Homo sapiens: one gene and its partners. The protein of the gene in region 4 interacts with the protein of the main gene of each other region in a pairwise test. Each region holds a gene or a part of one and is shown on either strand. Other genes may lie near its edges.

Region 1 (4,688 bases), on a different chromosome or scaffold from region 4:
ATTACTTGAGGTCAGGAGTTTGAGACCATCCTGGCCAATATGGCGAAACCCTGTCTCTACTAAAAATACAAAAATTAGCGGGCGTGGTGGTGAGTTCCTGTAATCCCAGCTACTCGGAAGGCTGAGGCAGGAGAATCGCTTGAACCGGGGAGGTGGAGGTTGTAGTGAGCCAAGATGGCGCCACTGCACTCCAGCCTGGGTGACAGGGCAAGACTCCCTCTCAAAAAAAAAAAAAAAAAAAGAAGAAGAAAGAAGTTTCAGTTTAAACTACTCTGCTATCAAAAGTAGACAACCATAAGTTTGCATCCAGAGCAATACAGAGGAATAATAAGGAATGAAAAATTTTAGGTTTGTAGTTAGAGTCAATTCATCCATTATCATCTGCTATAATAAACTGTTAATCTGTTTTTCGCTTCAATATCTTTGATGGTCAGTTCGAACAACTGCCACAGCAGCAAGCAACTTGATTGAAGTATTTGTTGATGGTCAGTCTGTCATGGTGGAACCGGGAACGACCGTCCTCCAAGTAGGCATACATTCTAACTATTTTGTGTGTGTGTTCTGATTTTTTTAAAAATACTAATTTATTTCCTTTATACTGATTATTAGTAAATAATTCTTTAAAATAACTATACACAGCAAAGTTATATTAAAATTATTTCATTTTAAATCTTGGCACTTCAAAGTGAGCTATCATATATTTGTTTGTGGCATTTTTAGTGAATTATGGTAGTTCTTTTGTTTCACTTTTCATTCCAAATGAATACCCATTAAGAAATTTGAAGTCCGAGCGCAGTGGCTCATGCCTGTAATCCCAGCACTTTGGGAGGCCGAGGCGGGCGGATCATTCAGGAGTTCTAGACCAGCCTGGCCAGCACTGTGAAACCCCTTCTCTACTAAAAATACAAAAAATTAGCTGCGCATCGTGGCGCGCACCTGTAATCCCAGCTACTCGAGAGGCTGAGGCAGGAGAATTGCTTGAACCCAGGAGGCGGAGGTTGCAGTGAGCCGAGATTGTGCCACTGCACTCCAGCCTGGGCAACAGAGCAAGACTCTGTCTCAAAAAAAAAGAAAAGAAATTTGAAGTAACTTAAATTAGTTACTATAGGTAAGTTTGTGAAAAAATAACCTCCATTTGTTGTGGGCCTGCTTAATGCTTTTCATTTTCATATAACCTTTCTGTGGTTAGTAATATTCATAGGAATATATCCTACAAAGCAGGTAAATGGAGGGTAGCATGTGCTTACATTCATGCTCTAAATATTTCTTCATATTCCTCCAGAAATAATAAATTGGTCATAGAGAAGTCATGCTTCACTCCATTTGTAAGTTGTCACAGATCTAAATGTTCTTTGTTCATTTTAGCAGTCATTTCTAGACTATCTGCCAGTCACAGACATGAAAGCACAAAATATGATATAAATGTATGTTCAAGGTACAGTGAAAAGTTGTGGCAGGGATAGGAGGTAGTAGAAAGAGGTATTGGGTGCCTCAGGTCATCCCTGAGGAGGTGTTAAAGGATGAACAGGTGTGTTCATATTGTGAACAAGAACGACATGCTTGCATTTCCTATGGAAAAAGTTAAGGCAGATAGCTTGTCATATTTTGAAAGCTTCAAATAGTTTAATATTGATGAAACATAAGGTATAAGTAGAAGATGAGATCACAGGAAATCAAGTTATTGAGGAAGGGAAGGTCCAGTCATGAAATACAGTATCTGCTATGCAGAAGAGCTTATATTTTGATCCATCAGGAGTTTTGTTGCCTATTTAAACAGGGTGACAGCGACTGTAGAGGATGATCATTTGGAGAATAGCAAGACTGGAATAAGAGACAAGGAAAAAGCATTTTGTATTATTGGGACAGGATACTACAAAAGCCCTAAAATAGATAGTGTCAATGGGAATGAAAACAAGAGAGTAGATTCAAGGGAGAATGAAATGTAGACAGGCCTTCAGGAATGATGAAGACCCGAGGGATTTTTTCCCCCGTCGTACAGAACTTCCCAATATTGCTTTAACAGTGAGAAAAAAAAAACACAAAAGAAGTTTCAGTAGAGCCACAGACAAATAGTTCTTTAGAACTCAAAGAGACCGGAGGAATTCTTGTGGTTTTCTGCATTTGTTAGGTTATTTTGGAGTGTATAGAGGGGAGAGAAATCATTTGAATTTAAGCTGTCTGTGGAACATACACATGCAAATACCTGTAAATCTGAAGCTTGGAGAAGTGGAGGTCTAACATGGCTGCAGATTAAGGTTTGGACATAATCAGCATAAGGAATGTCAGCTAGGATGAAGGCTGGGACACTATCTGTCTTTTTCACTACTATACCTGCATCCTGCACAAAGGAAAGACTCAACACATTTTTGCTAACTAAATAGTTTAAACACTGGAAATTGATGAGATTGCTTTAGAATGAAGGCTGAGGATGAGGAACTAACTCTAGAGGAAATTTGAACATGTTTATAGACTAAAAGGAGGAAGAAATTGCAGAGCAGGGTAGGTGATAATTGGCAGAGCAGGGATAATCCCCCTTACTGGGCAAACAGAAACTGGGAAAACCTTCAGCCACAGTGGGAGGTGAGTCCTGGGTAGCATATAGGAGCCAAAGACAGATAGCCAGCTAGATAATGTGTAGTGAAATCTCTAATCCAAAGGAGGGGAGCGAGGCAAAGAAGAAGTCCAGGTATGAAACCACTGGGGACATTGTGGACAATGGTTCAAAATGGATGTGGGAAGTCAAGTCTTCAGCACAGTGGAAGGATACTTTATCCAGTTTCTTCCACATAAGGTGAAGTCACGCCAAGGATCCTGAGATCCTCTGAGGCAGCTTCAGAGGAGACGGGTTAGAATCAAAGGCAAAGAAAGGGACTGAAATAAGAATGAATTAAGATAGATAGATAGATAGATAGATAGATAGAAGTAATAAGATGCTGTATGTGTGTGTTTCAGCAATAACAGCAGTGAAGTCAGGTTATTCTAATGCTTTTTTTTTTTTTTTTTTTTTTTTTACTTCTAGGCTTGTGAGAAGGTTGGCATGCAGATCCCTCGATTCTGTTATCATGAAAGGTTGTCTGTTGCTGGAAACTGCAGGATGTGCCTTGTTGAAATTGAGAAAGCCCCTAAGGTACTTGATACCTAAAATTCTACACCATGCTGTAGAAGGTAGAAAACTTTAAATCTTGCAGCAAACTTTATTTAGAATCAATATCGTAGTGGAGAACCTAGCCCTCTTTACTTCTATCTATAAATTTAATTCTTTTGTACAATTGATTCTCTTCATTTCAAAACTGGAAACACATAGATAGAAGTGCTTTACAAACACATGTCATATAATTGTAACATATCTAGAAATTAAAGGTGATTTATAGTTGTCAGTATTTCCAAATGGCTGTATAATATATAACCAGGATGTAGAGTTGCCAAGTAGCACATTAAAAGTGCTGACGCCCTGCCATTTTTAGTAGAGAAAAGGGTTGCAGGGAAGAAGTTCACTTTCAGTAGTTTAATTTCATTTTGGTGTATGCAATTTTTTTATTCAATAGTGCCTGCTAATCAAAGCAGTTATTTGGTGTTCTGTTTCAGAGCAGAATAAAAAATTGCATTGACTATTAGAATAAACCTAAAAACCAGGATGTTTTATTTCTGAGATAAATGCAAAGTACTAGATCATCGTATTATGAATATGAAAACTTAACAAAATTCAGTTTTAAAAAATACCCTATTCTTTGCCTGTTATCAAATGTATAATTTAATGTTTTTATATAATTTAACATTTTTATATATTGAGTTGCTTGTAATCACAAATAAATACAAATACACATTTTTTTTTTTCATTGAAATCCCAGGTTGTAGCTGCTTGTGCCATGCCAGTAATGAAGGGTTGGAATATCCTAACAAACTCAGAAAAATCCAAAAAAGCCAGGTACTTTATTGTTATTCAATGTAGTACCCTTTCATAAAGCAGAAAATTGCACATTTTGGTATTTAGACCTTCCCATAGATTAAGAATTTAATATCAAACTCGGAAGAAGTTGGTGTGCTCAGCTTCTAGGAGCAATAGAAGTGAGTACTACATAGTAGAGAAGGTGAAGTCAGGAGTTTATGGTATTGAGCTTTAGGATCAGCATTAAAAATCCTTCTTTAGTAACTTGCTCAACTTGTGAAGAAGGGTGAATCTGGACTTACTAAGCTACTACTATACTATACTGGGATTGATTGTGTTTGTTTTTATTTTGAATTAATGTGAATATTTTCTGAGGACCATTCAGCAACTTTTGATCATTCGGTATTGTTAAAAGTTACAATTTTCTTTATTTTTTGAAACGAGGTCTCACTATGTTGTCCAGGCTGGGCTTGAACTCCTGGCCTCAGGTGATCATCCTGCCTCAGCCTCCCTCCCATAGTTCTGGGATTACAGACGTGAGCCACCAAACCTGACCAAAAATCATAATTTTCTATGTTCTCTAATGATACTTTATTCTAGGCTCCTCTAAGCATTTTCCAGATTGTGTGTTTAATACTACCAGAATGATACTCGGGAGGATCACTTGAGCCCAGGAGCTCGAGTCCAGCCTGGGCAACATAGCAAGACCCCGTCTCTTAAAAAAAATATTACCACAATGATAGATAATTGGCATTTCTGATATTAAATGTAAAATTACTATTAATTGTATAACAAATATACA
Region 2 (4,030 bases), on a different chromosome or scaffold from region 4:
ACAGACACAGCATTAAGTCCATTGCCTAATTTCTGTCCTTTGCCTACAGGGGTATTGTCCTTGCATCACATCTGAAGCCACTGGAGCGGAAGGATAAGATGGGAGGAAAGAGAACTGTGCCCTGGAACTGTCACACTATTCAGGGAAGGACCTTCCAGGATGTGGCCACTGAAATCTCCCCGGTAGGTGAGGCCCTGCCCCTTTAGTCCAGCAGGATTCTCTGCCCTAAAGCTTCAATCCTGTTTTTTCATTTTGTTTTGTTTTGTTTTGTTTTTTTAACCACACATACCTCTTCTTTATTTGTCATGTTAAACCAACAGAGATAGGTTTCTGCCTCCAATCCCAGAAAGAAAAACAAACAGCAGATGGCAAAGCTGAGTTGAAGTGGGCAGAATGAGTCAGAAAGTTGGGCTAGGAAGGTCGGCTTCCCTTAGTCCTTTGACTTTCATTCTCAGATCAGAATTGGGATGCTCTGCCTCTGGGTTGTATGGTGTCTAGTGTAATGATCCTGTGGCAGTGTTGAGAGAGAGACCCCAACATTCAGATCCTTGAGTTCCTTTCTCTCTTCCTGAGATTTCCAATCAACCCATCCACCCGACTTACAGTAAACCCTGACTTACTCTTGAAGACCAGAGCTATGTCTCCATTCATGAGTAGGAAAATTCCAGTATAAATGAGAATCTCAAATCATGGCGTGGATTCCTTGGGGCCCTCCCTGTTTCATCCCCAGTTTCCTCATCTGAAAATGAGGCCGCCAAGGACCACAGCTTTCCCAGTGCTCAGACAGTAGTGAGATGAAGACAGTAAGATGAAGAGCTACAGGCTCCCCTCCCTGTCACTGTTGCAGAACAGCTGGAAGAGCTCCTGACTCCCTTTCCTTCCTTTGTGGTCCAGGAGAAAGCCCCCCTCCAGCCCGAGACGTCTGCTGACTTCTATCGTGATTGGCGACGACACTTGCCAAGTGGGCCAGAGCGCTACCAGGCTCTACTGCAGCTTGGGGGTCCAAGGCTCGGCTGCCTCTTCCAGACAGATGTGGGATTTGGACTTCTTGGGGAGCTGCTGGTGGCACTGGCTGATCACGTGGGGCCGGCTGACCGGGCAGCGGTGCTGGGGATCCTATGCAGCCTGGCGAGCACTGGGCGCTTCACCCTGAACCTAAGCCTGCTGAGCCGGGCAGAGAGAGAGAGCTGCAAGGGCTTGTTTCAGAAGCTGCAAGCCATGGGCAACCCCAGATCCGTGAAGGAGGGGCTCAGCTGGGAGGAGCAGGGTCTGGAGGAGCAGTCTGGTGGGCTCCAGGAGGAGGAGAGGCTCCTGCAGGAGCTGCTGGAGCTGTACCAGGTTGACTGATGCGGCAAGCTACCCTCAGAGGTCCCAGTGGTCACTGGAGGCAGTTTTTTGGTTGTTGTCTTGGGGGTTCTGCAGGACCATAATAAGAAACCCACACCTGGTTCCCTTCTCAACTTGGAATTTTCAGAGCAAAAACAGGAATCAAGTCTTCCCCACTTCTCCAGTCCCTCAGTGTCTCGCTGTTTTGAACTGTGTGTATCCATGGACAGTCAAGAGCTCAGGAAGTTGAGAGCGGTTTTGTTTCCCACCCTTAGAGTCTGCCAAGCCTCTAGCCCACTGGCCTTGAGAGATGAGTGTGTGCCCAACCAAATGCTGGCTATACCAGTTACAGCCTCCACTCATAAAAGGGAAAAAGCAAAATCTTTATGGTAAACAAACACTGATCTCCACAGCTCTTAACAAGAATGTTTATAGCCCCAAACCAATGAATGGACATGTAATCAACAAATGATCAAATACTACATCATTTGAGGTGTTGAATTTTCCCCTAGAGACTCAGTTCTTGTGCAGGTTGGGCCTGGGAAAGTCCCAAGCCATCAGCTCAGGTCCAGCCAGCCTCCCGGATGGCCAGATATGCAGGAGGGTGGGTTTCCTTCATCCCCCAGGTTGATGAAAGACTTTTCCACCAGGCTGGCAGGGCAGGGCCTGGAGCACTGAGGCAGAGATCTCCCTGCCCGAGCACCTCGGCCCGCCCTTCTCATTCCGGTTTCCTTTGACCCATTCTTGGGTGAGCGCCAGTGTTCTAGAAAGGGGAGTAAAGGCCAGGTTCTAGAATGGCTTTCCCCCCCCACCCTGAGATCAGGTCTGGAATGTTAGAAGGGCATCTTGTACATCCACTGGGAATAAATTGCCTTGCACTTGGCGGCTTCCTCTGCAGATTGTTGCTGCTTTTCCTGGCTGCATAATCCTTTCCTCATCTAGAGGCTTCCGCTTAGCAGAGCTTTCTAGGAGCCCTATGAGCCTTTAATGCCCTGGTTTTGCCCTGCCCCTCTGACCCCTGCCTCCTTCAGGTATGCACCTGGCCCTCACCACTGTGCTCCTGTGGGCATGGGGGCTCCAGGCCTTTGAAATTGTGGAGAAGGAAAACATTTTTCAGAGGACCCCCTGCCCTGCTTTCCTGATGTTTGAAAATGCAGCCTACCTGGCCGACATGAGCTTTGAGCTTCCCTGTCACTGCAAACCCGAAGAGGTGCCAGCTGTAGTCTGGTTCTACCAAAAGCACCTAGGTAGCAGCCACACCAAAGTGCTGACGGACTTTGATGGGCGGGTGCTGACGGAGGCAGCCCAGGTACGTGTGGGCAGCGACATGCTGACCCGCTTCAGCATCCGCATGTTCAGCTTGTTGGTTTTCAGGGCTCAGTCTGAGGACTCAGGCCTGTACTTCTGCGGCACCCGCAAGGGGGACTACTTTTACGCCTACGATGTGGACATCCAGAACAGTGAGGGAATGGTGGCCACTTTCCAGGACAAGGGCCAGGAGCCCTTTGCAGATGAATACTATGGGCACCTCCATGTCTTCACCACCTTCTGGGAATGGACCCCCTGTGACCGCTGCGGAGTGCGTGGGGAGCAGTGGCGCATCGGCCTCTGCTACCTGCAGAGCCCAGACCTCTCCCCACGCTACCTCAAGGCCGTGCCCGATGTGGTGTCTTGTGGCTCAAGGGCTGTGCCAAGGAAGCTGCGGACCAAGGCCAGGGACCACACGCCTGAGGTGCTGGTTCGGAGCTGCTTAGTACCCTGTGAGAAGACAAAGACCATCCGGGAGGGCGTGCTGGCCATCATTAACTATGTGTCCAAAGTGGGCAGCCGGCCCTGGGTGCCCCAGGTGCCCATTCAGTTCCACCAGCAGAGACTGGGCCATGGACTCATCATCTCCTGTCCTGGGGCCCGGCCAGAGCATGCAGTGGCCTGGGACAAAGACCGCCAGCACCTCTACCGCACACAGTACCTGAAGGGTGTCAACAGGTCCATGAGGGTGTTCATTGACCACGGCAACCAGCTCCACATCCGCTTCACCCAGCTGGATGACCGGGGCATCTACTATTGCTGGAGGCAGGGTGTGCTAGTTGCTGGCTTCCGGCTGGGTGTGACATCTCATGGGCACTACCCAGCCTCGTTCTCAGATCCTGAGACTCGCTCGGCTGTGGAGCTCACCCTGATAGGCTACCTGCTCATCACAGCAGTCTTTGTCACCATTCACTTCTGTCGTTGCTGCTGCTACTTATTTCACTGTTGTCCCAGCTTCTCCCCCTAGGAGCTCTCTTCAGCTCTGAAGACCAGTTGTCCTTCAATGTGTTTGTTAAATGATACCAGATGTCTCTGGGTGGGTACCCTGGGTTGGGACAGGTGGTAGGAACATGTGGACAAATCTGTTACAGCCTGCTCCCCATTTTCATGGGCAGGTCTGGGACCTGATCTGAGAAGTGGAGGGGCCTGAGGCTGGTGGGAGATTGGGGACTGAGCTCAGGATGGAAGTAGGGCACATGTGTTTCCTGACTTCACATTTAGGTCAGAGAAGGAAAGTGTGAACTCAGATTTATCCAGTGGTAAACACTGATCAGTGTTGAATCATGTTTGAGCTGCTTTGCTTTCTTGCCTATGAAGATTGTGCTGGTTGAGTTGCAGGTAGCAGGGAGAGGAAGGAAGAAAAGAGTGGAGGGAGCTGGTGTATGTCCTCTTTGGC
Region 3 (4,688 bases), on a different chromosome or scaffold from region 4:
TGGTTTCAATAAGGATCCTTAAAAGTTCATGATACTACCTTTTGCCAATAGAAGAAGGGTGTATCTGTGAGAGAAAATATGTAAAAGTTGAGACTAAACCATGGTGAACACAAAAAAGATGGCTCTTTAAGAAAAACAAAAGAATGGCCAGGTACAGTGGCTCACGCCTGTGATCCCAAAACTTTGGGAGGCCAAGATGGGCAGATTGCTTGAGGTCAGGAGTTCAAGACCAGCCTGGCCAACACGGTGAAACCCTGCCTCTAGCTAAAATACAAAAATTAGCTCAATGTGGTGGTGCACACTTGTAACCCCAGCTACTCGGGAGGCTGAGGTACGAGAGTCACTTGAACCTGGGAGGGGGAGGTTGCAGTGAGCTGAAATCGTGCCACTGCACTCCAGCCTGGGAGACAAGAGTGAGACTCTGTCTCAAAAAATAAAAAAACAGAAAAGAAAATCCAATCGATGTAACATATCAATTTTTATTCTACTCCTAGATTTACCTCTAATGCAGCATTTATCCTCCTCCTTTCCCTCTCAGCAGAAAAATGGTCCCTCCTCTCTAATACTCTATCAATAACCATTCTCTATTCCTTTCTTCTGGCCCTTGTGTCTCTGTCAGCCCCCAGCTGTCTCCCTATTCCTTTTCAGTCCTTTTTTTCTGTAGCTCTCTTTCCTCTGTTCATGTCTTAACTGACACTTCCTAGAGTTCCATTCCTACCTCCTTACTTCCCCAATGACACACCCACTTTCATCATTTCTCCTACAGGTGATTAAGTCTAAACTGACATTTACCTAAGTCCTCATTGTCTAGTTCTATCTTGATGTCCCTTTGGCCTCCTACATATCTCACCACAAACATTTTTTGCTATATCTCCAACCTTGCTCAGTTCAATTGCTTAAGCCAGAAACCAGTCATCCTTGACATCCTTTCCTTCTCCTGTACTCCATTAGTTACAAATCCTGTCGATCCTACTTCAGAAATATCCTGTACTACAAGCATCCTTAAAAACCTTAGCTTAGGCCATATCTCTCTTAAGAACTACTACAACAGCATTTATTTCTCTGGTATCAGTCTCTTCTAACCTCTAATCTATTCTTAAAATTATCTTGGTTACCTTAAAAAAAAAAAAAAAAAAAAAGACAGGTGCCGTGGCTCACGTCTGTAATCCCAGCACTTTGGGAAGCCAAAGTGGGCAGATCACCTTAGGTCAGGAGTTCGAGACCAGCCTGGCCAACATGGTGAAACCCCGTTTCTACTAAAAATACAAAATTAGCTGGGCGTGGTGGCGCATGCCTGTAATCCCAGCTACTCGGGAGGCTGAGACAGGAGAATTGTTTGAACCTGGGAGGCAGAGGTTGTGGTGAGCTGAGATCACGCCATTGCACTCCAGCCTGTGCAACAAGACCAAAACTCCGTCTCATAAAAAACAAAAACAAAAAGAAAACACAAACAAAAAACCCCCACAAATATCCTGGTGATTCTGCCCAATTTAAGGTTCCTATTAGCTCTAGATTGTCTTTAAAATAGAGTCTAAAGGCACGACATATACCTCCCTTTCCTATCTGGTCCCAACCTGCTCCTCAATTCTCAACTCTGCCCACCATTTCCACCTCTGATTTCTAAGCTCCAAAACCAAAATACTTCATATTTCCCAGAACGCTTTTATGACTGGGCCTTTGCACTTGCCACTCCTCTCTCTGAAGTGCTTCCTGCCCATAAAGTAAACCATACTGTTTTCTTCCTCTGCCTTTCATGGTGCCTCTACATCTTTTAGGACATTTATCGGATTATACAAGAACATGTTAATATACCTGCCTATCCCTTTCACCTCACAACAGACTGACTGTCTTGCTCCAACCCTTAGCAGTTCCCAATGTCATCATCAAGGACCATCCTCACCAGCAGTGCCACAATATTCAATGTTCAAGGCATTATGTAGACACAAGGCTGCATGGTTAGGAAGTAGTAACTGCTCAAACAATATTAAATAAAGAAATGTATGAATGACCTGCATGACTTAACCTGAAATCACTGAGAGAAAAGAAGCCAGAAACTATGCTTCTGGATTGCCCTGATCACAACTAGAAGTTCCTGCCAGAGTGCAGTGCTTTGAAATCACGTATGGGGTTACAACCTCAGAAAACAAGACTCAGGCTTGGTGTGGCTCAAGCCTGTAATCCCAGCACTTTGGGAGGCCAAAGAGGGCACGTGGCTTGAGGCTAGGAGTCCATGACCAGCCTAGGCAACATACTGAGACCTTGTCTCTACCAAAAAAAAAAAAAAAAAAAAAAAGGCCAGGCACAGTGGCTCACGCCTGTAATCCCAGCACTTCGGAAGGCCAAGGCGGGTGGATCACCTGAGGTTGGGAGTTCGAGACCAGCCTGACCAACATGGAGAAACCCCATCTCTACTAAAAATACAAAATTAGCCAGGCGTGGTGGCACATGCCTGTAATCCCAGCTACTCAGGAAGCTGAGGCAAGAGAATCACTTGAACCCAGGAGGCGGAAGTTGCGGTGAGCCAAGATTGCACCATTGCACTCCAGCCTGGGCAACAAGAGCAAAATTCCGTCTCTAAAAAAAAAAAAAAAAAAAAAAAAAAAAAATTAGCCAAGGGTTGTGGTATGTGCCTGTAGTCCTAGCTACTTGGGAACCCCAGAGAAGATCGCTTGAGCCCAAGAGTTTGAGGTTGCAGTGAGCTGTGATGGTGCCACTGCACTCCAGCCTGGGCAACAGAGGAAGAACCTGTCTGATAGGGGAAAAAAAAGCAAAAAAGAAAACAAGAAGATTCACTTGCTTGTGTTTGCAGCTGATCCAGTCCAAAACTTTGCTGATAAACAGATGTGTTGTTTTCTGTTAATAACAGGTGTAGCATCCAAATGAAGAAAGTCTGCCAATCCTTAACTTAAAACTCAATTTAAGAGCTTCTGAATGTTCTTTCATTTCCTTTTCCTTTCCTTTAACTTAAAATTCAATTTAAGAGCTTCTGAATGTTCTTTCATTTCCTTTTCCTTTCCTTTCACATTGTTTACTGCCATCCAGATTGAAAGCTGGCTGAAACCCTAGTTATTCACATTCCCTTTAGCGTTAACACTACAGAAAGTATTATGTCTTTGGATATTAGTTCAATACCCTCAATTTTATAGATAACTAAAAGCCCCAAACATTACCTAAGGCCTCACAAGTATTTTAGAGGCTTAATTCCAAAATTTCTGGCTTAAAGTTTGGTGTTTTTTCCACTAACTGGAGTCAAATGACTAAAAAAGTAATATGAAATAAACTTCCACATTAAAAACAATTTCTGCATTTAAAATACTTTTCTGAATTATAAAAGTACTCTACGAAGTCATTCCTTTTTTTCACTACTCAAATACTGAAAGGTTCTCCGATAAGTCACCATCTGTGATACACACTTTTTTCTATACTCCAGCTCTGTGAAATATTAGAAGAGAGAAGAGTAGAAAGATCACTCAATTTATTAAAATTATTAGAAGACCACAGAGCTGGGATCTTTCCTCAAAAATTCTTACCCAGAGTTAATCCTGTAGTTATAGTTGTTGCTATTCCTGGGGACAAAAAGAGAAATAAAATTTAATCATCAATGAAGATGACATTCTTTAGGTTTACCTGTCATAAGGGAAAGACTTAAAATCACCCTCAGGGAGTGACAACACTTCTAATTAGAACAATACATATCATAGTATCTGCCACTAATCACGCATTTTTCCCATAGCACTGGTTTTCATATTACAAGCCATACATAATTTGATTAAGGAATAAAATTTATAAAATGCAAATAACTATTGCTTATAACAAAATTAAGCAAGACCAAAAAAAGCAACTCCAAACAAAATGCTATACTGAGCTGTCTCAAGCAGCTCACTGACTAATCTGCTCATATTTATTCCTGTAGTTCTTCCATTTTCTAGATGTGGCTGTGAAATGTGCTGCACTCAAAGCTGGAAGATCAACGCAAAAAGTAGTAAGAATGACCAAGAGGCTCTAAGGGTAGAAAATAAGGGGTAAATAAAGAAGCAAACTTTTTAAATGGTCAGCTCCAGTGAAACATTATTTTTCCAGCTGTACTAAAAACAAAAACTTTCTATTGTTTTGAAACCTTCAAGTCCTTTACCTATTGCCCTTTTCCCACTTTGTTTTAATAATACAAAAATGTAAAACATCTCTTAGGAACGTAAATTATAGACCAGGCATGGTAACTCAGGCCTATAATCCCAGCACTCTGAGAGGCCAAAGCAGGAGGATCACTTGACCTCAGGAATTTAAGACCAGGAGGAGACCTCTTCTCTACAAAAAGTAAAAAAGTAAAAAAAAAAAAAAAAAAATTAGCCAGGCGTGGTGGTGCACACGTGTGGTCCCATCTACTCAGGAGGCTGAGGTGGGAGGATCACTTGGGCCCGAGAGGCTGCAAGGCTACAGTGAGCCATGATCATGCCACTGCACTCCAGCCTAGACAACAGAGCAAGACTGTGTATCTAAAAAAAGAAAAAAAATAGAAATTATGTTACAGTAAGGGTGCTGATTATCTCACGTATGTTAATGTTCCAAATTGATAAAGCTGGCTTAAACCACAATCTCCACTAAGGAAAAACACTACATTATATAATCCAAAAATTTAAATTAATATTTGTATGTTTTCCTTCGTTATATCAGAGTAGATGACAGTCAAT
Region 4 (2,242 bases):
TTTCCAGCTAGAGGGGAGAAAACACCAGGAAAGAGGAACCCTGGGTCATAAAATGACGGACCTGTTAGGAAAATGCTGTTGTGTGACAATGGAGAGCCTGCCCAAGGACTGTGCAACCTATCTGTTCCTCTCCACCAGTGTATCCCAAGTAGTCTGGTATGATCTGTGGTTCCTTAGAATATTGAGGATCTCTTTAAAAAATGAAATTTCTGATCTCACCCCATATTACTAAAGCAAAATTTCCAGGGGTAGGGACTGGGACTCCAGAACCATTAATAAAACAAAACAAAACAAAGCAAAATATTGATGATCAGGCAGATTTGAAAACAGTGACATTGCTTGATCTCTGAATGGATGGATGCCCTTGGGTGGTCACTTTTCTTCCTAGGACTTGCCTTTGTTATCTGTAAATTAGAATGGCTATACTTTCAGACTTCACAATTTTAAGCCACTTTTTTCTATTAACAGTTGAATGAACCAGTGGGACACATTTTAACGTCTTCTTATGTTGACTAAAATTATAGTTAGAGCTGAGAAAAAAAAAATAGCATCTAGTCCAACTCCTTGATTGTAAAACTGAAAAACTAAGGTTATTTGAATGTTCTGTTTTCTCTTTTTAAATATTTTATAACTTTTAAATGGAAAAACCTATTAGGTAAATGGAAATAATCCTTGAAAATAGTTTTTGATGTTTTGTGATTTTTAACTGGTAAATTTCTACTTTAGGTGGGCATTTTCTTCCCTAGAATATGCCCTTTATTATGCTATCATTGCTAGATTTAAAGGGACTTGTAAGCATTTCTGGAAATATTTGATTTAAAAACATATATTAATAGATGTTTTCCCTAGCAGACTTTTGGAGCAAAAATATTATTTTAGTTCAGCAGAGGATTACTGATATTATGGGCTGATCTCAGAAAGGAATAAGGATGAGGCAGAGAGGAGTACTTGAGTTTGTGTGTGTGTGTGTGTGTGTGTGTTTGTGTCAGTGTCACATAAGTTCTCCATATTGCCTTATGTCCCAAAGCCAAATATAAAAATATAAATGATGCTTTGTATAATTCATTTTATCAAAAATTACCCATAACTTTCATTTGTTTTTATATCGACAATGAAGATGATCATATTTCATTTTGCAGATGTGGCCATAAAATATTATTTACTTCTATATAGGTGATTTTACCAGGTTTAGTTATCCTGAGAAAACATCTGGACTTAAGAGTTTCTGCTTCCCTACAAAGATCTTTAAAGTTATTTTTAGGCACATTTGTGACAAACAACTACTTGATATTGAAATCTCCTTCAGCCATTAGAAGCTATCAAATAAAGTAGGTGTAAAAACAACTGTCTGTGGCATTTGTATACATCGAGAACATTTTTCTTTCCCTCATTTTCTGCAGTGAACTCCAGTAAAGCTAAGTGTCTTATGAAATCTAAACTCATATATGTACACAGTTCACTCTAGCTTCTTCCAAAATATCTCTAGGTAGTACAACTGAAGCCAAACCTGCCTGACTTCCTGCTCCTGGCCACCCAAAACTCCATATGGCTTCTCGTACACTGACATCCTCTCTCTACCCATTTAACTGCTAATTGAGTCTGATAAAAGTCTTCTTTGAAAAAAGTTTTTACTTCTAAGATTTGCATTTACATCATAAAATTAAACCATTTTCAGGAAAATCAGATTTTTTTATTACAGTACTATTTGCTTTAAATTCGGCATGTTTTTCTTAAGTAGCAAGTACATGTATCGGAACTTAGAACTGGTGGGCGCGGTGGCTCTTGCCTGTAATCCCAGCACTTTGGGAGGCCAAGGTGGGGGGATCACGAGGTCAGGAGATGGAGACCATCCTGGTTTCATCACGGTGAAACCCCCTCTCTGCTAAAAATACAAAAAATTAGCCAGGCATTGTGGTGGTCACCTGTAGTCCCAGCTGCTCGGGAGGCTGAGGCAGGAGAATGGCATGAACCCGGGAGGCAGAGCTTGCAGTGAGCAGAGATCGCGCCACTGCACTCCAGCCTGGGTGACAGAGTGAGACTCTGTCTCAAAAAAAAAAAAAAAAAAGAACTTATAACTATGACTTGTTCATCTCACCCTGAAAATATGTTCCTACAAGAAAATGTGCTTTGCAAAGCAAAAAAGGCAAAAATTGGGGATGAGTTCTTCAGACAAGTACCAAAAATGATTTCTCGTCATTTTTATTGTATGCATATTCATCATAGAAAATAATTTTTTGTTTTA

What was found. Proteins that work in one complex are often made in the same cells at the same time.
Region 1: the proteins of KIAA0408 (region 4) and NDUFS1 interact in binary tests that used the Homo sapiens proteins (3 or more experiments, as listed by UniProt).
Region 2: the proteins of KIAA0408 (region 4) and GFAP interact in binary tests that used the Homo sapiens proteins (3 or more experiments, as listed by UniProt).
Region 3: the proteins of KIAA0408 (region 4) and NUP58 interact in binary tests that used the Homo sapiens proteins (3 or more experiments, as listed by UniProt).

Annotation. Positions count from the first base shown.
Region 1 is NC_000002.12:206,148,257-206,152,944, reverse strand, and holds part of NDUFS1 (NADH-ubiquinone oxidoreductase 75 kDa subunit, mitochondrial isoform 1 precursor), read left to right. Parts: intron 1-434; coding exon 435-526; intron 527-3,019; coding exon 3,020-3,127; intron 3,128-3,848; coding exon 3,849-3,925; intron 3,926-4,688.
Region 2 is NC_000017.11:44,901,471-44,905,500, forward strand, and holds the end of GFAP (glial fibrillary acidic protein), read right to left. Parts: 3' UTR 3,602-4,030; coding exon of another isoform or gene 2,360-3,601; 3' UTR 1,689-2,359; downstream 1-1,688. Other genes in the region: DNAAF19 (dynein axonemal assembly factor 19), read left to right, coding at 50-182, 895-1,347; Ig-like V-type domain-containing protein FAM187A precursor, read left to right, coding at 2,360-3,601.
Region 3 is NC_000013.11:25,308,125-25,312,812, reverse strand, and holds part of NUP58 (nucleoporin p58/p45), read right to left. Parts: intron 3,567-4,688; coding exon 3,531-3,566; intron 1-3,530. UniProt on the Homo sapiens protein: Component of the nuclear pore complex, a complex required for the trafficking across the nuclear membrane.
Region 4 is NC_000006.12:127,440,148-127,442,389, reverse strand, and holds part of KIAA0408 (uncharacterized protein KIAA0408), read left to right. Parts: 3' UTR 1-2,242.